Linked DNA regions of Homo sapiens. The protein of the gene in region 5 purifies or fractionates together with the protein of the main gene of each other region. This does not show direct contact. Each region holds a gene or a part of one and is shown on either strand. Other genes may lie near its edges.

Evidence for each region.
Region 1: the proteins of TAS2R42 (region 5) and PPIL4 purify together in Homo sapiens (affinity purification with mass spectrometry; one large-scale study listed by BioGRID and IntAct). This does not show direct contact.
Region 2: the proteins of TAS2R42 (region 5) and PATL1 purify together in Homo sapiens (affinity purification with mass spectrometry; one large-scale study listed by BioGRID and IntAct). This does not show direct contact.
Region 3: the proteins of TAS2R42 (region 5) and DCAF13 purify together in Homo sapiens (affinity purification with mass spectrometry; one large-scale study listed by BioGRID and IntAct). This does not show direct contact.
Region 4: the proteins of TAS2R42 (region 5) and RBM6 purify together in Homo sapiens (affinity purification with mass spectrometry; one large-scale study listed by BioGRID and IntAct). This does not show direct contact.
Region 6: the proteins of TAS2R42 (region 5) and MAP9 purify together in Homo sapiens (affinity purification with mass spectrometry; one large-scale study listed by BioGRID and IntAct). This does not show direct contact.
Region 7: the proteins of TAS2R42 (region 5) and RRP36 purify together in Homo sapiens (affinity purification with mass spectrometry; one large-scale study listed by BioGRID and IntAct). This does not show direct contact.

Annotation. Positions count from the first base shown.
Region 1 is NC_000006.12:149,515,044-149,518,543, forward strand, and holds part of PPIL4 (peptidyl-prolyl cis-trans isomerase-like 4), read right to left. Parts: intron 2,408-3,500; coding exon 2,311-2,407; intron 1,974-2,310; exon of another isoform or gene 1,914-1,973; intron 1-1,913. UniProt on the Homo sapiens protein: PPIases accelerate the folding of proteins. It catalyzes the cis-trans isomerization of proline imidic peptide bonds in oligopeptides.
Region 2 is NC_000011.10:59,641,538-59,645,037, forward strand, and holds part of PATL1 (protein PAT1 homolog 1), read right to left. Parts: intron 1,499-3,500; coding exon 1,343-1,498; intron 1-1,342. UniProt on the Homo sapiens protein: RNA-binding protein involved in deadenylation-dependent decapping of mRNAs, leading to the degradation of mRNAs. Acts as a scaffold protein that connects deadenylation and decapping machinery.
Region 3 is NC_000008.11:103,439,386-103,441,669, reverse strand, and holds part of DCAF13 (DDB1- and CUL4-associated factor 13), read right to left. Parts: intron 1,535-2,284; coding exon 1,399-1,534; intron 216-1,398; coding exon 52-215; intron 1-51. UniProt on the Homo sapiens protein: Part of the small subunit (SSU) processome, first precursor of the small eukaryotic ribosomal subunit.
Region 4 is NC_000003.12:49,967,650-49,971,149, reverse strand, and holds part of RBM6 (RNA-binding protein 6), read right to left. Parts: coding exon 2,402-3,500; intron 1-2,401. UniProt on the Homo sapiens protein: Specifically binds poly(G) RNA homopolymers in vitro.
Region 5 is NC_000012.12:11,185,493-11,188,136, reverse strand, and holds TAS2R42 (taste receptor type 2 member 42), read left to right. Parts: upstream 1-1,199; coding exon 1,200-2,144; downstream 2,145-2,644. UniProt on the Homo sapiens protein: Receptor that may play a role in the perception of bitterness and is gustducin-linked. May play a role in sensing the chemical composition of the gastrointestinal content.
Region 6 is NC_000004.12:155,370,466-155,373,965, forward strand, and holds part of MAP9 (microtubule-associated protein 9), read right to left. Parts: intron 2,992-3,500; coding exon 2,671-2,991; intron 1-2,670. UniProt on the Homo sapiens protein: Involved in organization of the bipolar mitotic spindle. Required for bipolar spindle assembly, mitosis progression and cytokinesis. May act by stabilizing interphase microtubules.
Region 7 is NC_000006.12:43,027,361-43,030,099, reverse strand, and holds the end of RRP36 (ribosomal RNA processing protein 36 homolog), read right to left. Parts: coding exon 2,623-2,739; intron 1,009-2,622; coding exon 872-1,008; 3' UTR 501-871; downstream 1-500. UniProt on the Homo sapiens protein: Involved in the early processing steps of the pre-rRNA in the maturation pathway leading to the 18S rRNA.

The DNA.
Region 1 (3,500 bases), on a different chromosome or scaffold from region 5:
GCCAGGCTGGTCTTGAACTCCCGACCTCGGGTGATCTGCCCGCCTCGGCCTCCCAGAGTGCTGGGATTATAGGCATGAGCCACTGCACCCAGCCAATTTTTTTTTTTTTTTTAAGAAAAAAAAAATGGAGACCGGGTCTCGCTATATTGCCCTGGCTGCTCTCAAACTTCTGGGCTCCAGCAATCCTCCCACCTCGGCCTCCCACACTGCTGGGATTACAGGCATGAGCCACTGCACCCAGCCTATTTCTTAAATGATGGATCATACGAAAGAAGACAGCACTCCCATGAGCCACTGCACCCAGCCTATTTCTTAAATGATGGATCATACGAAAGAAGACAGCACTCCACCTCAGCCCTCCTATCTCCCATATTAGTGTCACAGCTTTAATGCCACTTTTTTCAGTGTTGAGGGTATTCTCTAACCTCTCGCCCCCTATTATGAGTCCCATATCTCTTTGCAATATTTATTTGCAATAATTTAGACGTATTTAGAATGGTAATTATTTAATGTCTGGTTTTTTTTCCCCACTCCAACAGCAAAATGTAAGCTCTATGTGGGCAGGAACTGAATATCTTTCATTGCTAAACTGAGTATGTGACAGATGCTTACTAAGTATCTGTTGATTACTTGTCATACCCTCAAGACACTTGTTGTATCTCCTGCTTCCTCACTTACCCACTATCTTGTACTTATCACTAAAATCAACACTTTCAGAAGACATCAAATCCCTCTCCCTTTGAATAAAACACAAATTTGTGAGCTCACTGCCATCTTTTCTCCAATTTCTTCCCTGAGGTCTAGTTGGGCCAAGTTATTTCCTTCTCCTACTTCTATTTTTGATTCTTCTTATTAATAATCTATACTTTCACTAATTTCTCTTTCTCTTAAGGCCCATAAAGTAGATGCCACCATGCCTTCTTAACTGACTTAAGACAATTTATCTGCACATCAGACTATCCCCTAACAGCATTTCTCTCTTTTGCATCAACTTCAAAAGGCTAGAAGCTACACTATTCCATATAAGTATATGTGTGGTTGTTTCAATTAATTAAAATTAAAGAAAACTTAAAATTCCCCTTCTTCCAGCTATAGTTATTAGTAATAAGCCTAAATTTAATTTCAAAGATTTGGTAAATAAATATCAAATGTATTCCATTCATAACTTTTATGATTTTGAGCTTTCAATCATATGCCCTTGAATGTTGATCTTTTCTGACCAAATCTCAGCTTCTTATTTGGTCTGTCTGCATGTGAAAGCCTCTCCTTATGCTGATTTTATCAGCTTTCTTCAGACTTTATCCAGTTCTAACACCTCACAATGCTTTATACATTGCAGACAATCAACACATCTTAAAACATGAATATAGACCAGGTCAACCTGATATTCATCTTTCTTGATGAGTACTTGGAAAAGAAATGTCTACATATGTAGAAAAAAAAATCCCTGAAATACCAATAGAAACTAGGAAACAAAGACACCATTTACCAGAAAGAATCACAACAGAAATAACTCTTGCAATGTGTGGAGTGATATATTTATAATGGGAAAAATTAGTGAACCAATTTAAATGTCATAATATAAACAGTATGTTTCATTACTTTTTACATGTCTCAACCTAAAACTTGGAAGAACCTGAAGTAAATGGTCAAGTCAATGGATTTCTTTTTAATCCTACAAAAGTGAACTCTTGCACTCAGTAGAAGCCCAATAAATATTTGTTGTTGAAATTACAATATACTATACCGAAAGAAGTAACCTAACATTGTAACAGAGAACAATAGGATTTTGTTATCTAGGTAAGGAAGTTAAACATAACAGCAGGTAGCACAAAGGAATCAGCTTAGCAATAATAAATTTCAGATTATGAGGAATAGAAAACATTACAATTACATATAGAAAATACAAAGCTAGTGTTACAGCTCTTTTAGAATTTGTCTAGTAGGCTTTCCGGTTTTTGCAGGAAAGCCCCCCCAAAAAGAAAATACAAATCTTACCTGAAGATCTTCTGAGAATATGATAAGTAGGAAAGTACTTAACCTAGAGTAGGAAAGTATTAATAAAAGAATTAGGCTACAGATTTCTTTCAACCTTAACTTTCTCCATACACTAGAGTATAGTGAAAAAGCAAAGTATATGTAAGATCTTGAAAAGAGATAATGATAAACTAAGTTACTTCCTCACAAACAATCTGGATTCAGGAAATTTGTCTTCTATAGCTTTTGTGACTTTTCATAACACATCACACAGTACTCTACACATAGCAGATGGTCAATACATATTAACTAACTGATTCTTGGTAAGGATACTCCTGTTTGGGCTTTACTTTATCTTTCAGAACCAAATTAGGTGGTTTATCCTGTTCTTTTTCATACTCCTTGAAATCACTCTTGGTGTATTTCCCACCTATTTATTAAGAAAAGAAAAAAAGAGCTTAGTAAAAAAACCACCTAACCAAGAACAATAATTATTTTATAAAAAGCATAAGAGCTATTTTATAAATGGCATATATCGAGAGACAGAGAAAGGGAACAAAAGAATCATAGTAATTCCATCTCCATTACTAATTTGAAATCAGACATCCATTTTTGCTAGGTAGCCACATGCTGCCACCTAACGATATATGTGAATATTACAACATCAAACTTTCAAATAAATTACACACAAATGCCGTGTTCAAGTAGAGCCATTGAGCCCATGAGAACATTAAGTCCAGTGGAAAACTGAGGATTTGGGACCTGAGTTTAAGATCTGAAAGACCTAAGTTTGAGAGAAGTGAGACTTTAAGAGACCTTTTAAAGATCTAACGAGATAGTGTGTGCCTGTAATCCCATCTACTCGGGAGGCTGAGGCAGGAGGATCGCGTGAACCTGGGAGGCAGAGGTTGCAGTGAGCCGAGATCGTGCCACTGCACTCCAGCCTGAGCGACAGTGCGAAACTCCGTTTCAAAAAAAAAAGATTTAACAAGAGATACTCTGCTAAATGGCAACAGAGCATCAGGCAAATAGAAGAGGGCAGGATGTGCAGAAGATCACCAAACAGCTGTGAGAGGAGAGGGTGGGTAATAGCACCAAAGACAAACTGTCTCTACTTTGAAATTCTAACTTAGGGGCAACTTCATTCCTCCCAAGTGCCAAAAATCCCCTCAGGAAAATAGGACCTACTGCTACATCCTAACTAGCTTGGTAGGGCTAGAAAGGAAGAGCATTCAATGCAGCCTCTCTACTCTCAACTCTAGTCTCCTATCAGATGAGAATTCAATTTTCAAGTCTCCTACCAGATGAGAATTCAATTCGCATCCATGTCCCAGACCTGTTGACTGCCCTGCCTTTCCTATCCCTCAACCACACCACTAGGAAATGCTGTTTGTAGAAAGGCTTCCTACAGAAGGGTCCTAGATTAAATGTAGAAGTAAAACAAACTGGAGGTACAGACAGAGGTTTTGACTGAGAATCCTATGTGTACCTTGATTGTCAGGGTTTTAAAGGGGGACCCATAG
Region 2 (3,500 bases), on a different chromosome or scaffold from region 5:
AGCTCAGGAGTTTGAGACCAGCCTGGACAACATGGCGAAACCCCACCTCTACAAAAAATACACAAATTAGTTGTGCGTGGTGGCATGTGCCTGTAGTCCCATCTACTTGGGAGGCTGAGGTGGGAGGATGGCTTGAGCCCAGGAGGCAGAGGTTGCAGTGAGCCGAGATCTTGCCACTGCACTCTGGCCTGGGTGACAGAGAAGACCCTGATTTAAAAAAAAAAAATCCCTTTTCATGTTATTCTCAGAAAAAAAATACTACTGCCTTTACTAAAATTAAAACTAAGAGACCAAATAACAGAAAGGCACATTCCGGATCACTCCAGAACCCCAGAGGCACTGTCACCTCTTCTTCCTCTGATACACTGACCTTTAGAGTCATGCTTTGGTAGGTTTTCTGGTGCAAAGGAGCAAGAGGCCTTGAGACCACTTTTTCATCTCTACTGTACATAGAATGGCCCTTAATGAGTAACTACTATGTACCAGGCATTATATCGAACCACTTACAACTGTTATCTCATTTAAGTACCAGGACAACTCTATGAAGTCTACATCATCACCTCCATCTTATAGACCAGGAAACTGATTCAGCAATGTGATATCATCTGTCCAAGGTCACAAAGCTAGACAGTAGCAGGGAAGGACTAAAAATTCATATTCTTTATTTCATATTATGTTTCCCCTAGGAATCTCTGAATCTTTAAACTTGATGCAAATAAAATATGAAATGGATGATTCTACTATTCATAGTGTTATGACAGAGACTGCTAATTGCCTAATATGCCTTCCTACCCATTATCAGAACTCTTATGTGTCATGACAATGGCATAAACTAAAAGATATTTTCCAGCCTTCCCTGCACTTAGGTGTGGCCATGTGACAATGTCCTGGCTATTAACAGTAAGTAGAAGTTTCTGGTTAGAACTCCTGGAAAAGGTCTCAATAAGGAAGATGGACAGCTGGTCCACATCTTTTTGCCCTCCACATCCACCTGTCCTTCTTGATGTAAAGCTGAATCATGAATTCCACAGCCATCTTGGACCATGAGGAATAATGAACATGGAAGCCACTGGTAAGAATGGCAGAGGAAAAAAAGTGAAAAAGCCTGGATCCCTGATGACTCTGTCGAGCTACTAAATCAAATTTATTTCACACTAGACACATAAAATCCCATTTTGTTGAAAACACTGTTATTTCTAGCCGGTTACTAGGAGCTTAATGTAACTCTTGACTGAAAGAAGCCTTTTTCCCAAGTTGCTAGAGATACAGCAGCCATTATTTTAATCTATAACGCAAATTAAGACATTTCACAAAGTTCAAGGAGTTAAAAGGGCAAGATCACCTTGTTCTGGAGCACAGCAGTGAGGTGAGGATTGGAGAGTGCTGGTGTAGCTGCACTTTGAGGTAGGTTCATTAGCTGTCGCAAAAGGCTGGTGATACTCACTGATGGAAGATGATAGAGAAGGAGAGAGAAGGGACTCAGTAAGCATGGCAGCACCTACAAAAAACAAATAAAAGCATTATATCCTGGCACGTGTTACTTCAGTTACCCCCCACCAGGGGCATGGATGGAAGGATGTTCATTTGTATATTCAACCACTTAAGGCACAAGTCTGGCAGATATGACTAGAGTCTTAATAATGAATTCTAAGCTATCTACTGAGAACTTTTTCATCTCAATTTGCATTGGAAACACCATGACTTGTGTGAACCAAAGGTGTAAAAAAAAATCACTCCCAAATACATACCAAGAGTTATGCTAAAACATCAATATTTTAACTAATTCCATAAATATTTAAATGCTTACACTACACCATGGGCTAAAAACAAATGGCAAAAGGACACAGAACCTCAGGGATCTAAAGTATAGCGGAGAAGATATGGGTTAATTGGCCATTTCAATATACTGTGAGAAGCACTCCAAGATAGGTTAAAGGCCAAGCAGAAGATCACTTCAGGCCAGGAGTTCAAGACTAGTCTGGACAACGTAGTGAGACCTCATCTCTACAACAAATAAAAAAGTTTCACCTGTAGTCCCCAGCTACTCAATAGGCTGAGGTGGTAGGTTTGCTTGAGTCTAAGAGTTCAAGGTTACATTGAACTATGATTGCACAACCACATTCCGGCTTGGGTGACAGGGTGAGACCCACCCTGTCTCAAAAGAAGTGTTTTCAGATTTAATGTATTTTCTTTTATTTTTATAAAAGCTCAATGAGGAAGAAAAGAAATAATTAGCCAATTTTTATAGATTTTTAGAGAATCTATAAAGTGATCAGAAACTCAGTGTTTGGAGTTACATAGCCACAGCTAGAGCCAGAACCCAAGGCTGTTGAATTCCAGCCTTCTAGTCATTTATTTCTTTTTGTCATGTAGCCAACTGGAAAGTTAAAATAAAGAACTATTAATATAAATAACTAGGTTATAACACAACAAAGGAAATCAAGAGTGCTTCCAGACAATCAATGCACATGGTATAAAGTGATGGCTGGTTTTACTTTAAATGGCAACTGCAAATGGGGAATAAAATATTTTTTGTGGTCTACTATAAATTAAAAAAGCTTTTATTATGGTCATTTTAGAACATACATGAAAATACAAACAACAGCATAATGACATTCATGTACTCACCACCCAATTTCAACATCAACCAAATTATCAACATTTTGCCAATCTTATTAAATCTATGTTCCTTCTGTATCATATCATTTCATCCCAAAATACATCAGTTTGTATTTCTAACAAAATCTCTCACAATATCATACCTAACAAAATAAACAATAATTTTTCTTCATAGACCATTTCTCAGGAAAGAATTTTAAAATATCATCTAGTATCTGTTTCAAATTCAAATTCCCTCAAATGCCTTTAAAAATATCTTTTAGCAGCTGAACTTTGTATTAGAACCATTATTGTGCTAATTATGGTTCAAACAAGATCCACACATTGCATTTGCCTGGTAAGGTTTTTAAAATCTCTCTAACAGGTCTTCTGCCACTGGCCCTTTTCTCTTGTTATTTATCTGTTAAAGAAACTGGGTCATTTGTTCTATAGTTTGAATTTGGCAAACTGCATGTTGGCAGTGTCACTTAGCAGGTTCTGCTATCCTCTGTTTCCCTCCTAAACAGATAGTTAGAATAACAGGTTTATTTGATTCAGGTTCAGTAGGATGTGGGAGGGACATGTGAGAAAACGTCATGGATAGAACTGTGTATTTTCCATTGCATTATGCCAAGAAGAGCTAGGTATGGTGGCTCATGCCTGTAATCCCTGCATTTTAGGAAGCAGAGATGGGAAAACTGCTTGAGCCCAGGAGCTCGAGACAAGCCTGGACAACATAGGGAGACTTCGTTTCCTTTTTTTTTTTTTTTTTTTAAAAAAAAAAAAAAAGCACAGTGCTTGGTTGTCCCACTCTTAGAGGTGTTAAGAGTTCATTAATGGGTTCAGGTGTTGCCAGGCTGCTCCAACCACTGTAAAGTTCCCCATCCACTTTTTTTTTTTTT
Region 3 (2,284 bases), on a different chromosome or scaffold from region 5:
TGAGAGCAGAAGTCAGAAAAGGGTAATAGAGTCAAATGCCTCAAAACATACTTTCGTCGACGAGCTTCTTTCATGATGCGCTGTTCCTGAATCTGGCTATAGATAGATTTTGGTAGATGTCGATGACGAGCTATACGTTTTATATGAGGATAATGCTGAAATTTCTCCTTCAATTTCTGGTTATAATCCTTGGCTGCTTTTTCTCGTGATGTAAGCTGAAAATACACATTTTGGTATCTTAATGAATAGTGTGTTGTTTTGCTTCAGTATAAAAAAGCTAGAAAGCACCCTTTTCCCCCTAACCTAATCTTTTATGATATGCAACCAAAATTGCCAATGTAATTCTGCACTTTACAAGGTTATATTAGTAACACTAGCTCTGCAAGCACTGAATTTCCTTTTAGGCAACACACTCGCCATGTAGATAGATGCCACCCAGTAGAAAGCAGCAGTGCTGAAGGAGTAGGGCCACGTGGATCACTGAGTTGGACCTTCCCTAGGCATCAATAACATAGAAAAGCACCTAAATCACTCACTCAAATTTTGGGGGTGGGTAAAGAGGTGAGTTAAACATAGTGAAACAGCAAAGAAAAAATAAGTATCCAATTCCATAAGAACTACCCTTTGTTTAACGAATGTTAAGGATGATACGATTTAGAGGAACATTTAATGATGGACCTAGGCACAATGCAATACTTATCAATCATTAAACCTAAAACAGAATTGCCTTTGATTTTCCTATCAGGACTAAGTAGAAAATAATTCACACTTACCCTTTCCTTCTTAAACTTAATATTTATTTCTAATATAAACACTCTGTTTCTTATAGAAAATATGGGACATTTAGAAAAACATCAAGAACAAAACAAAATCAACCATAATCCCCTATCCTGGAGGTAACCAGCCAATGATAACACCTGCTATTTTTTCATGGAATCTTTTTTAAAGTATGAAGCTTTCTGTATTTATTAAATGTTCCATTGTGTCTTTGATATTACAAGATCTCCCAGGGACTTGCAGCCTTTGAGTTGCTGGATGACTATTTCTCTAACAAGAGATACGAGCTCTAAGTTCTGAGCCTCTAGTTCCTGCATCTTCTGTCCCTACCTCAAGGAAAACACAAAAAACCAGTAAGACTCAATATTATCAAACATCTGAATTAACAAAGGCATTCTGAAGGTCTTAAATGTCAATTTGAATGTACAGTGTCTACAATAATAGATCAGAATGAAGCAAATAATTATCAATACAACCTTGTCCATTTATTGCTTTTTTTATCACAGCTATGTCAATTTAATCAAAATACCCAAAAATACCTAAAAGTAAATTTTCATAATGTAATATCTAATAAAATTAGAAATCAGCTTTATGACAATGAAAGAAAATGAATTCTCTTACCACACCCAATTTTTCAGAAGCATTAGCTTTCCACAGGCGAATGTTCATTTCATCAGATCCACACATAATATACTTGCTGTCAGAAGTCCATTTTACACAGATAACATGTTGCATTCTCTTTGTATGATATACCTCCCTATAGAAAACGAATTAAGTTAAAACCCTTTGGATTTTGGTACAGATTTTGAGTAACCACTGCCTATTAAGTATCAGGATACTATTTCTGAGTCCTATAGGAGTATAAAATAAAAACTCAAATTCTTGTCAATGTATTTTTATTGAACCCAACTAATAAGGTTCCGTGTTAAGTGCTGGGGTAGTAAACAAATTTCTGCTCTCAGAGAACTTACTATCTAGTAAGAGAAATAAATATGAACAAACTAAGCAAAACCAGATGTACAGAAAAGTTCACAGAATAACTAAAAGCATAAAATGCAAATAAAATATGATGTTCAACCAAGGTAACTTTGTAACAAAAAGAAAGGACTTGATCTTAAAAGGCCTCTTCCCCATATCAAATCAATTCAGGTCAACACACTTTTTTTCCCCTTCATTTTACTGAAAAAGAAAGAAATGCAATGGTCTTCAAAGAGTACCTCCTGATATGCTGAATCTAATGCCAGAATTTTGTTTTGGTTAAATTGTTTAAAAAGCTTAATTAATTAGACCAGCCTGCCCAACATGGTGAAACCTTGTCTCTACTAAAATTACAAAAGTTAGTTGGGCGTGGTGGCACACACCTGTAATCCCAGTTACTAGGGAGGCTGAGGCAGGAGAATCACTTGAACCTGGGAGGCAGAGATTGTAGTGAGCCAAGATTGTGCCACTGTACTCCAGCGTGGGTGACAGAGTGAGACTCTGCCTCAAAAAAAAAAAAAAAAAAAAA
Region 4 (3,500 bases), on a different chromosome or scaffold from region 5:
GGATTACACACATGCATCACTACGCCCAGCTAATTTTGTATTTTTAGTAGAAATGGGGTTTCTCCGTGTTGGTCAGGCTGGTCTCAAACCCACGACCTCAAATGATCCACCTGCCTCAGCTTCCCAAAGTGTTGGGATTACAGGCAAGAACCACCACGCCTGGCCTAATTTTTGTTATTTTTAGTAGAGATGGGGTTTCACCATGTTGACCAGGCTGGTCTTGAAATCCTGACCTCAAATGATCTGCCCACCTTTGCCTCCCAAAGTGTTGGGATTACAGGCATGAGCCACTGTGCCTGGCCTTATTTTTCTTCCCCACCCTCACATTCTCTCCTGAGGTTGCACCACACTGGTCTCAAGTTCCTGGCCTCAAGTGATCCTCCCACCTCAGCCTCCTAAAGCACTGAAATTACAAGCATAGGCCACTGTACCCAGCCAAATCTACTTTAAAAGAGAATACCTTCATTGTAAAATTACAAATATAACCCTCCTTGCTTAAATCATATATTCAAGAAGTTTAACATTTAAGTTAATTACGTTAGCTGCAAGAGGATAGTTGCAACATTAATATCAGCTCTTCACAACTAGGGAGACTCCTAAGTATTCTCTCAATGAATTTAAATAAGAAAATGATCCCTAAACAATCACAGGTCTAACTAAGCGAGAGTTGCAAGAGTCAACTCCCAAAGACATATACTTTCAAACTAAATTATCCCAAGGCATGTAAATCAGCATCATAAAACAAAATAATGAATAAACACACATCAAAAGGGTAGGGGCAGTGGCTCATTGCTGTAATCCCAGCACTTTGGGAAGCTAAGGTGGGGGGACTGCTTGAACCCAGGAATTTGAAACCAGCCTGGGAAATATGTTGCAACCTTCTGTCTACAAAAAAATACAAAAATTGCTGGCCAGGCATGGTGGTGCATGCCTGAAATCCCAGCTCTTTGGGAAGCTGAGAAGGGTGGATCATTTGAGATCAGGGGTTCCAGCCCAGCCTAGGTAACATGCCTAAACTTCATCTCTACAAAAAATACAAAAATTAGTCAGATTTGGTGGTGCACAACTACAGTCCCAACTACTCAGGAGGCTGAGGCAGGAAGACTGCTTGAACACGGGAGGCGGAGGTTGCTGTGAGCCAAGATCGTGCCACTGCACTCCAGCCTAGGCAACACGGTGAGGCTCCATCTCAAAAAAGAAAAAAAAAAACACAACTAACTAGGAATGGTGAAATATACCTGTAGTCCCAGCTTCCTGGAAGGCTGAGGCGGGGGAACCCCTTGAACCCAGGAGGTAGAGGTTGCAGTGAGCTGAGATCGCACAACTGCACTTCAGCCTGAGCGACAGAGCAAGACTCATTCTCAAAGGAAAAAAAAAAAAACTAGCCAGGCATAGTGGCTGGCGCACATCTGTAGTTCCAGCTACTCAGAAGGCTGAGGTGGGAGGATCGCTTGAGCCTGGGAGGTCAAGGCTGCAAGGAGCCATAATTACACCACCGCACTTCAGCCCGAGTGACAGAGCAAGACCGTGTCTCAAATATATATATATATAGTTCCTTCATATATACACACACATATATACACAAATGGAAAGTGAAGCAGGAAGAAAAGAATAAAAGAAAAAAGAAATATATATATATAAATATATATTCATATATATACATATATATTCATATATATATATACACACACACACACATATATATGATCTGAGCTGAGGACCTTTTCTCTAGAGATTTACATTCCTACATTCCACTCCTGAATACAAATTTTGCTTTCTAATGGTTATGCAAAGATAAAAATAAAATGAAAAAAAAAAAAAAAAACTGGCCAGGCACGGTGGCTCATGCCTGTAATTCCAGCACTTTGGGAGGCCGAGGTGGGCGGATCACGAGGTCAGGAGTTCGAGACCAGCCTGGCCAACATGGTGAAACCCCATCTGCACTAAAAATACAAAAATTAACTGGGCATGGTGGCACATGCCTGCAATCCCTGCTACTCAGGAGGTTGAGGCAGGAAAATTGCTTGACCCTGGGAGGCGGAGGTTGCAGTGAGCTGAGATTATGTCACTGCACTCTAGCCTGGGTGACAGAGCAAGACTCCGTTTCAAAAATAAATAAATAAATAAATAAATAAATGTCATCCTTCACAAAAGTCTTATTTAAAGAAAAAAAAAAAAAGCAGGCCGGGCGCGGTGGCTCACACCAGGCGTGGTGGTGGGCGCCTGTAGTCAGTCCCAGCTACTCAGGAGGCTGAGGCAGGAGAATGGCATGAACCCAGGAGGCGGAGCTTGCATGAGCAGAGATCGCACCACTGCACTCCAGGCTGGGCAACAGAGCGAGACTCCGTCTCAAAAAAAAAAAAAAAAAAAAAAAAAAAAGCAATCCACCCCATCAACATACCTGAAGGTCCCGTTGGGCATCTCGGGCAGTTTTGCCCTCTGGAAAAGACTTGCTCTGGCCATAGCCAAACATCTGGCTTCCTGGCAGCCTATGATCCACATCACGGTACTCCATGCTTCTGTAATCGGTGTCTTGCCGCCCAAGAAAGTCCAGACCGCCTTCTTCTTTAAACAGACCAGCATCTGAACTCTGCTCTTCACGTCCAGAAAGCTGTGACTTATCTTGGTCTTGAACTGGACTTTGGCTGTTCTGAAAGTCTGCTGGAGACTCATGTTCAAAGGCTACACCTTGTGTTTCTCCTTCTCTTGTTTCTGAATGCTCAAATTCTCCCTTCTGAATGCCAAAAGCAGGCCTTTCTATCGTATGGTCATGTGTGGATTCTTCTCTCCTGTTCACATTCATACCAGAATGTTCTCTATCTTGTGTAGAGGGCTGAATGTAATCCAAAATATTTGGATCCACAGGGGGCATCTCCCTATCTTTAAATTCCATACAAGATCCCATCTCTCTGCCCCTAAAATCCTGATCAGTCCTAGATCGGTGTCTACCTCTGAAATCTGAATGTGGCGTATCCCTGTCCCTAAAGTCTAGATCAGTAGTACCTGAACCTCGGCCTCTAAAGTCTACTTGTGTTCCGTCTTTGTCTCTAAAGTCCAAATCAGATACATCTCTATTCCTAAAATCAGAACGGGACTGTTCTCTGGCCCTAAAATCCAAATCTGATAAATCCCTTCCCCTAAAATCTGCATGGGATCCATCCCGGCCTCTAAAATCTAAATCATAAGTGCCCCGGCCCCTGAAGTCAGATGGAGGAGCATCCCTACCTCTGAAGTCAACAGCGTGAGCATCCCTGTCTCTGTAGTTCATATGAGGTGCCTCCCTACCTCTATAATCCATAGAAGTACCATCTCCACCCCTATAGTCCATAGGTGGTCCTTCTCTATCCCGAAAATCCCCAGAATGTATGTCCCTACCCCTGAAGTCCAACTGTGATGAATCTCTGCTCTGGAAATCAGAAGACGAAAAATCTCCCCCCCTGAAATCATGTCCAGGTCCCTCCCCTCCTCGATAGTCACCATGCGGTCCGTCTCTAGCTCCA
Region 5 (2,644 bases):
GGTTAATTTTTGTCTGGCAACACTTGAACACTAATTTCTAGTAATAGAATATCTGTTTGCTGACCATAAACCAAGACACATAATCTGTAACTCTGAGTTCAATTATGGTGCATTGGGGGTTTTTGTCAAAATAATTGTTCCTAGAATGTAGAACAAATACTTTTGTTTCCTCTTTCCTTATTTCATCTAAAACAATTTTCTACCTGTCTATTAAGGCTAAATTGGTAGCAATATATCTCTTGCCAAAAAAAAAATAGAACATATATAAAACCAAGGTAAAGAGCAAAACCATGTTTAATTTTGAACAAGTTACTATAAGATACCTGAGGAACATTTAGACTGAAATATCAGTAGGACTTTAATTTCAAAAAAGTAGTTTGGGTTTCGGTATCTTTCGGATATTATTCAATGAGTTCAAAATATGACTTGAGTTTCCTCATGAAATTCTAAGTATTTTCCAGATCCAAAGCAAATGTCACCCCCCTTTTCTCCCCAACAGTAGTGTTTGTAGTTCCCTTTTCTGCTTTAATAGCACATTTTATTCTTGATTCTGTCTCATTGTTTTTTTCCTGTTTTCACTATTTTATAGACTTCTTAATGCTTTTTTTTGTGGTAAATATATTGCATTTGCATAAGATCAGAAACACAGCAGGCACTTATAAAATATATTCGTTGAATAATAACAAAATTATTAGATTATATCTGCAGCTTCCTCTGAAAAACAATAAAGATATTTGGATCCAAGTGGTGTAGTTTTTCAGGTGAGCAGAAATGTACAAATCAGAGAAAGGGGGGGAATCCAGTCTATATTTGCATATTAATATACTTGACTTTATCCTTTTAATCATTACCACAAGTGGAAAGTTTCAGCCCATGACAATGATAAATGGACACAGAAACTGTTTGGTTTAGAATTCAGCAGCTCTTTCAAAGAAATGAAAACACTCCCGTGAAGGTATGTGAGACTGCATCCCTTAGTAGATCTTTTGGGATTAAGATCAGAATTATAGTAAAAATAGGCAAAGACTTCCTTAAGTATATGAGACTCTATCCAACAGCAGAAGGTTCTGATCAAGACTGGAAGTGCAATAAAAGCAATGAAGATAAGTATCAGATATGAATGCTCTTCTGCAATGGTTTGATTGTAAATTTATTAATGATACAAAGTATTAAAAACTTGGATTTTTTTGTCTCTGGAGATGGCCACCGAATTGGACAAAATCTTTCTGATTCTGGCAATAGCAGAATTCATCATCAGCATGCTGGGGAATGTGTTCATTGGACTGGTAAACTGCTCTGAAGGGATCAAGAACCAAAAGGTCTTCTCAGCTGACTTCATCCTCACCTGCTTGGCTATCTCCACAATTGGACAACTGTTGGTGATACTGTTTGATTCATTTCTAGTGGGACTTGCTTCACATTTATATACCACATATAGACTAGGAAAAACTGTTATTATGCTTTGGCACATGACTAATCACTTGACAACCTGGCTTGCCACCTGCCTAAGCATTTTCTATTTCTTTAAGATAGCCCACTTCCCCCACTCCCTTTTCCTCTGGCTGAGGTGGAGGATGAACGGAATGATTGTTATGCTTCTTATATTGTCTTTGTTCTTACTGATTTTTGACAGTTTAGTGCTAGAAATATTTATTGATATCTCACTCAATATAATAGATAAAAGTAATCTGACTTTATATTTAGATGAAAGTAAAACTCTCTATGATAAACTCTCTATTTTAAAAACTCTTCTCAGCTTGACCAGTTTTATCCCCTTTTCTCTGTTCCTGACCTCCTTGCTTTTTTTATTTCTGTCCTTGGTGAGACATACTAGAAATTTGAAGCTCAGTTCCTTGGGCTCTAGAGACTCCAGCACAGAGGCCCATAGGAGGGCCATGAAAATGGTGATGTCTTTCCTTTTCCTCTTCATAGTTCATTTTTTTTCCTTACAAGTGGCCAATTGGATATTTTTTATGTTGTGGAACAACAAGTGCATAAAGTTTGTCATGTTAGCCTTAAATGCCTTTCCCTCGTGCCACTCATTTATTCTCATTCTGGGAAACAGCAAGCTGCAACAGACAGCTGTGAGGCTACTGTGGCATCTTAGGAACTATACAAAAACACCAAACCCTTTACCTTTGTAGACAGACTTTACAGAAGCTTTTCTAAGAGAATAACTCAACAAGGAGCATTTGGGGATCACTTCCACTGTTTTTTTTTTTTTTTTCTACTGGGTTTCTCTAAGTATTTTGGAACATAAATGAAATCCTACCAGGTTGCTTTTGATGGTAATTCACACATTGCCGGTCGATACCATTTTAAAAGTAATCATTTTTGTTTGGAGCATTGGCAAGCAATATTTTAACCTCACATATTATTTCAAAAAATCTAAATTATTTAATTTTATATGCAAACGATAGGTAATTGCAACTTGTGGAGAAAAAGGTGTGTGTCTTTAAAAGCAAGATAGATTACAAACTTGAATGGGTAAAAGATATATACAATGTGGATAGAAAATCTAATTAAAAACTAAAGTCACAGCAGGAAAAATATAGCCTCATAGCTTCAAAGCTAAACTTTTTTTTTTTTTTTTTTTTTTTTAATGGCATCTCACTCTGTCGCCCAGGCTGGAGTGCAGTGGTGT
Region 6 (3,500 bases), on a different chromosome or scaffold from region 5:
CAGTTGTCATGCACACATACCACAATCCCTCCAATCCCTCCTGCTACCATACCTTTACCTAAGCTGATCCCCCTGCCTAGAATATCCACTTCCTGCTTCTCCTCCTGACAAATGCTTGCATGTCTTTTGAGCCTCAGTTTAAGCAGAATATTATATAATGCCTGAAAGAAGGTGTTGAGTCAATTTTTTTTATTATTGTGGTAAGAACAAACATGAGATCTACCTTCTTAATACATTCAGTGCAAAAGACAGTACTGTTAACTATAGGCACAATGTACAGCAGATCTCTAGAACTTACGCATCCCGCATGACTGATACTTTATACCTGCTGAGCATGTTTATAAACAAACGCTAAATAATAAAATGAATAATCAGAACATTTATAGAGTGCTAAATTTATGCCAGTACTATTCTAAGCACTTCAAATATGTGAACTCATTTAATTGCCTCAAACTCCTAGAGGCAGGCAACTATTATCCCGTTTTTAAAGATGAATAAAATGAGAACAAAGAGGTCTCATGCCCAAAGTCACAAACTCTAGCAGGCTGCAGATCTCAGATTAAAGGAGAAGCATCCTGACTCCAAAGTTCATGATTTCAGTCATGTTAGTATTAAAATAAAAACATATCCTGTGAAAAATACTTTCACTTTATAGAGCAACTGTCACTTCAGTAGTGACTATAAAGTCTGGTTATTATACTTTTTACAAAAGACAAGCAAGGACAGAGAAAACCTTCAAGCTCTAATAGTTTCATAAAGCATTACTTGCTACTCAGCAATATCTCACCACATTAAAAACATTGAGTTCCAAACCTGTACAGAAAAAAAAAAAGTCAAAGAATTTAGAGGATAAACTCATGAACCATATTCCCTCTTTCAAAGATAAATCATTCATATATTAATTTATTCATTTAAATACTTATTATATATGCCAGATATTATCTTAGGAACACTAGCCTCAATTTTTACTTTTCAACCTGAAGAACCTGAGAATGACAACTTTAATATATTTTCTACAAAAATTCCACTTCCAGAAGTACTGTCAAGTTCCCAAAAAGAAAAAAAAATGCCTATACTTTAAGAAAAGCGCTTTTTTTGGTAATCAATGTATACAATTACCTATTTAGGTAATTATTTTTATATTACACGTACTGAATATAACATTGCATATATAAGTAGAGCATTTAGGATCCTGATGCCACCTTGTGGTTAAAATACAGTATTTTCTTATTCATTGTAACCCACCACAGGTTTTTTTTTTTTTTAAGGTATGAAATAGGTGGATTATTGCTTTCCTGATTATCTACCATAAACTTCTAATTATATACATCCACCTGTCTCAGACAAATTTTTAGTTGCTATATATGCTCGCATTTTCTTAATAACGAAGTTCAATTATGTTCCTCTTCTCTCCAGCATTGATTTCACTCACTATACTTAGAAGGTACATTTTAACAAGTTAATTGTTTCATTATGCATCTGTTTGCATTTTTGTAGTTTTTTATAGTTTATGAGATGCACTTCAATAAACTCTCACAATTTTGCAGGAATAGAAAGAGGGTTATTTTTAGCTTCCTCATCATGAGGATACTGAAGCTTAACTTATTTGCTGAAGTCATATATAATATACAGAGGCCTTTCCCCCAGTGTCCTGGATATTATTCTAGTGTTCTTTGCTCTGCTTACATCCTTTGCTCATTTCAAAGTTAATGAGATTGTGGGGTCAGGAAGAAAGGAGCAGTTCCCCAATACATGCCTGAAATAAAGTTTTGTCTGACGTTACCACTGGTATCTAATATGCAAAGTATGAAATATTTACCAGCACTGTATTTACTGATGATATGCAAGGAGATTTTTATGAAGGTTAACATCAACTAATAATTCCTTTATAAAATACAAAGAATGAAAAACAAAAAATCCTTAACCTTGCATATACAAGTTCATGAATGGTGGCCCAGGGTATGTGACAGGACTTGGTCTCCGTTTCATTCTATCTTTGTTCCTTTATGCTTAAAATTCAGTAAAATTGTGGGCAGAACTAACTGTAATCCCAGATCACACCAGGAACTTTCCTTTGGAAAACTGAATCTTAGTAGATTTTCATAGGCAATACAGAGATCAAATGGAGATTCTCTTAAGGAGTGCCTGGATGCTTCAACAAACAACAGCAGCAATAACATAACTCATCCTTCAAATATACAAATGTCAAGAAAATTTTCTGGCACAATGTTGGTATGGCAAAGACTGTTAGAAGGATTAGTCTCAATATTGCTGTAACTCTAATCTTTGGAGTGTGAGAGGGATTAGACAGCATTCCATTCCAGTTCCACACCTACAAACAAAACTGAAGCTCACAGGTCTAGGTGTCTGGAGATCCACAGCTATGGATGCTATGGATGACTAAAGGTGCTTTGGCTTTGTGCTTTGGCTTTCTATCAGGCAACAGCCTAGATGCAAGACAAAATACAACAGGTCTGTAAAATTGAAGTTAGACAAAATACAACAGGTCTGTAAAATTGAAGTTAGACAAAATACAACAGGTCTGTAAAATGGAAGTTAAGTCTGTCTTTTTTTCTTAAATATATACTAGCTACCATATAAAAATTTTGGGACTGATTATCTTAAAATAAACTTCCAAGAAATGCAATTACAGTAATCCTAACAAATTACCTGAAGATGTGCTTTTAATTGAAAGAATTCTGGGTTTAGGTTTCATTTTTATTTTGTCTTTTTCAAATTCCTCATCCTTATTTTGAGATTCAGAGAAAGATTTTACAACAATGTCTTCACACCCATCAGGTGCCATTTCCTCTTCATTTTTGATGGCACACACTGGCTCATCTTTGGTTATGTTACCGTTTGATTTATTGGTTTTCAAAAACAATAGTTTTGAAGGATTCTTTTCTTCATCATCTGATATATGAAAGTCATTCATTTTTTTATTAACTGAATTTTCATCTGCTGAAGTGTCAGAAAAATCACCTAAAGAAACTGAAAAATGGAAAAGAAAAATGTTTTCAACAGTATTTTTAAAAATTGTCAAGGTTACGTTAACTTAATCAAAGTTTACCTTAAAAGCTACAAACAAAATTCTAACAATGAATAGGCACAAATGTATTTTATAAATAGACTTGCAGCTCTAAAAACACAGCTAACTCAGGCACGTCTCATTAACATTTATGAAATAAAAATTCCAATTTCATTAATTTATTCAAAATGTATTTATTGTGTTGTCTGTAGGGTACCAAACAACCAAACACTGTTTGCTCTGGAAAAAGCCATCCAAAGGTCCCTAACAATCAGTCATGTAGCATTTAAATTAGATTATGGACTGTAAAACTTTTATTTGCAAATTACTTCTTCATGTAAAATCAAGAACATTTGTAAATGGAAGAATTTAATTAGTAATTACTAATTATATTTTTTCCATAAAAATTTTGGAACTACAATTCCATCCACACCAGAATATTAGATTTACTAAGAATCATAAGAAATGCTAA
Region 7 (2,739 bases), on a different chromosome or scaffold from region 5:
ATTGGTTCACCCACTAAATGATCTTGTCATCCTTGAGGGGCCCAGATTTAAGTGGGAGGGGTTTCTGATCTGACTTCCCAGTTGTAGATGCCTTAGGCTTTATTGCCTATCCCAATATGTGGCCCACTAAAAAGTAGTTCTAGGCTACCCACAAATCCCACATAAAAGCAGAGGCCTTAAGGCCGGAACGGTGGCTCAACGCCTGTAATCCCAGCACTTTGGGAGTCTGAGGCAGGCAGATCACTTGAGGCCAAGAGTTTAAGATCAAACTAGCCAACATGGCAAAACTCTATCTCTACTAAAAATACGAAAGAAATTAGCTGGGCTTGGTGGCGGATGTCAGCTACTCGGGAGGCTGAGGCACAAGAATCACTTGAACCTGGGAGGTGGAGGTTGCAGTGAGGCGAGATTGCACCACTGTACTCTAGCCTGGGTGACAGAGCGAGACTCTGTTTCGGGGGGGAAACACAAAAAGAAGGCCACAAAAAACAGAATAAAAAGATGAGTAAAGAGAATGTTTATGAAGTGGCTCCTACATAATGTCCCAGCCCTGGGAGTCACGAACAGACTCCATGGTTTTCATTGGCCCCTCTTCTTCGGTATCAGAATCCCTGGTTTAAGGCAAGGATGAGAGAAGAACACGAGGACGCAATGAACCAGATTCAAGCTGAGGCTGTGTGGCATGGCAGAAGGCTGAACTATTCTTGTGTAGCCCTAGGGATAGTCCAAGAGCCCTCTAGTCTTCTCTGAGGCAATGAGATTCAAGGGCAGCTGTGATCCTTGCCCTTGAACGGAAACCAGCCGTGGCCAAATCTGTCCTCACAGATCCATGTCTCCCTGGGGCAGTGGCAGAGCAGAGGATAGTTCCTTATTACTCTTTGCTCAAAGGGAGATGTCTCCTGTCCTTGCCTGCATTTCGTCGCCTCTTTCGACTCAAGAAGTTCTCCAATTTCTTGCTGCGTTTCAGCTCCTTGAACTTCTCAGCTAGTGCCAACTGGCGCTGCTCAGCTAAATGACAGGGAGAATGAAAGTTGGTGAACAAAGAAGGAAGCCCCTATTCTTTCCCAAACCAGGTCAGTAACTCCAAGCCATTATGCTGGATACATGAGTTCTTTAAAGCTCACTGGTGCCCCTCTATCTTTTTTCTGAGACGGAGTCCTGCTCTGTTACCCAGGCTGGAGTGCAGTGACGCGATCTCGGCTCACTGCAACCTCCGTCTTCTAGATTCAAGTGATTCTCCTGCCTCAGCCTCCGGAGTAGCTGGGATTACAGGCGCGCACCACCACATATGGCTAATTTTTTTGTATTTTTAGTAGAAACAGGGTTACGCCATGTTGGCCAGGCTGGTCTCGAACTCCTGACCTCAGGTGATCCGCTCTCCTCAGCCTCCCAAAGTGCTGGGATTACAGGCGTGAGCCACTGCGCCTGGCCAACGGGTGACTTTTTTTTTTTGAGATGGAGTCTCACTCTGTCACCCAGGCTGAAGTGCTGTGGCACGATTTCAGCTCACTGCAACCTCCGCCTCCCAGATTCAAGCGATTCTCCTGCCTCAGCCTTCTGAGTAGCTGGGATTACAGATGCACAGCACCACACCCAGCTAATTTTTGTATTTTTAGTAGAGACGGGGTTTCACCATGTTTGCCAGGCTGGTCTTGAACTCCTGACCTCGTGATCTGCCCTCCTTGGCCTCCCAAAGTGCTGGGATTACAGGTGTGAGGCACTGCGCCCGGCCCAACTGGTGACTTTTTTTTGTTTGTTTGTTTTTCCTGTGAGATGGAGTCTCACGCTGTTGCCCAGGCTGGAGTACAACAGTGCAATCTAGGCTTTCTGCAACCTCCACCTCCCGGGCTCAAGTGATCCTCCTGCCTCAGCCTCCTGAGTAGCTGGATTACAGGTGCACGCCACCAGGCCCGGCTAATTTTTTTATATCTTTAGTAGAGACAGGGTTTCACCATGTTGGCCCCCAGGCTGGTCTCGAACTCCTGACCTCGTGACCCCCCCACACTGGCCTCCCATAGTGCTGGGATTATAGGCGTGAGCCACCGTGCCCAGCCCAACTGATGACTTTTTATATGATCTCAGTACTACTCAATTCAACCAACTATGAACACCTATGTGCCTGGCCCAGCGTGTGTGCATGTGTGTGTGTGCAGTGTAGACCAAGAAACAAAACTGATTGTGTGTGTGTGTGTGTAGACCAAGAGATAAAACTCTGTGTGTGTGTGTAGTATAGACCAAGAGATAAAACTGATTGTGTGTGTGTGTGTGTGTAGACCAAGAGATAAAACTGACTCTGTGTTTGTGTGTGTGTGTGTGTGTGTGTGTGTGTGTGTGTGTAGTGTAGACCAAGAGATAAAACTCACTGTGTGTGTGTTGGGGGGGGGGGGTTGGGAAGTGGGGAGTGTAGACCAAGAAATAAAGGTGACAATGCCTGCCATGATCTAATTAGGGATACAAGACTGGTTACAAACAACTCCCTACTATTTCTACTTTCCTCCAAGTTACCATGGGATCCAGCCTTCATGCCTTCCTTAAAGGGGATCAGGGACACCCCAACACAAGACTCTACCACCATGGCCCCTGCACCCCTGTCCCTGTTAGCAACAGTTGTGCCCAACTCACATTTTTTCAGGAAGTATGGCCGATGGCCCTGCTGGGCCTGAGCCCGACGTTCTTGCTTCAGGGCCAGGTGCAGCTCCTGCTGTTGCTTTCGTTCCTGCTGTGCCATTTCTTGCTGCT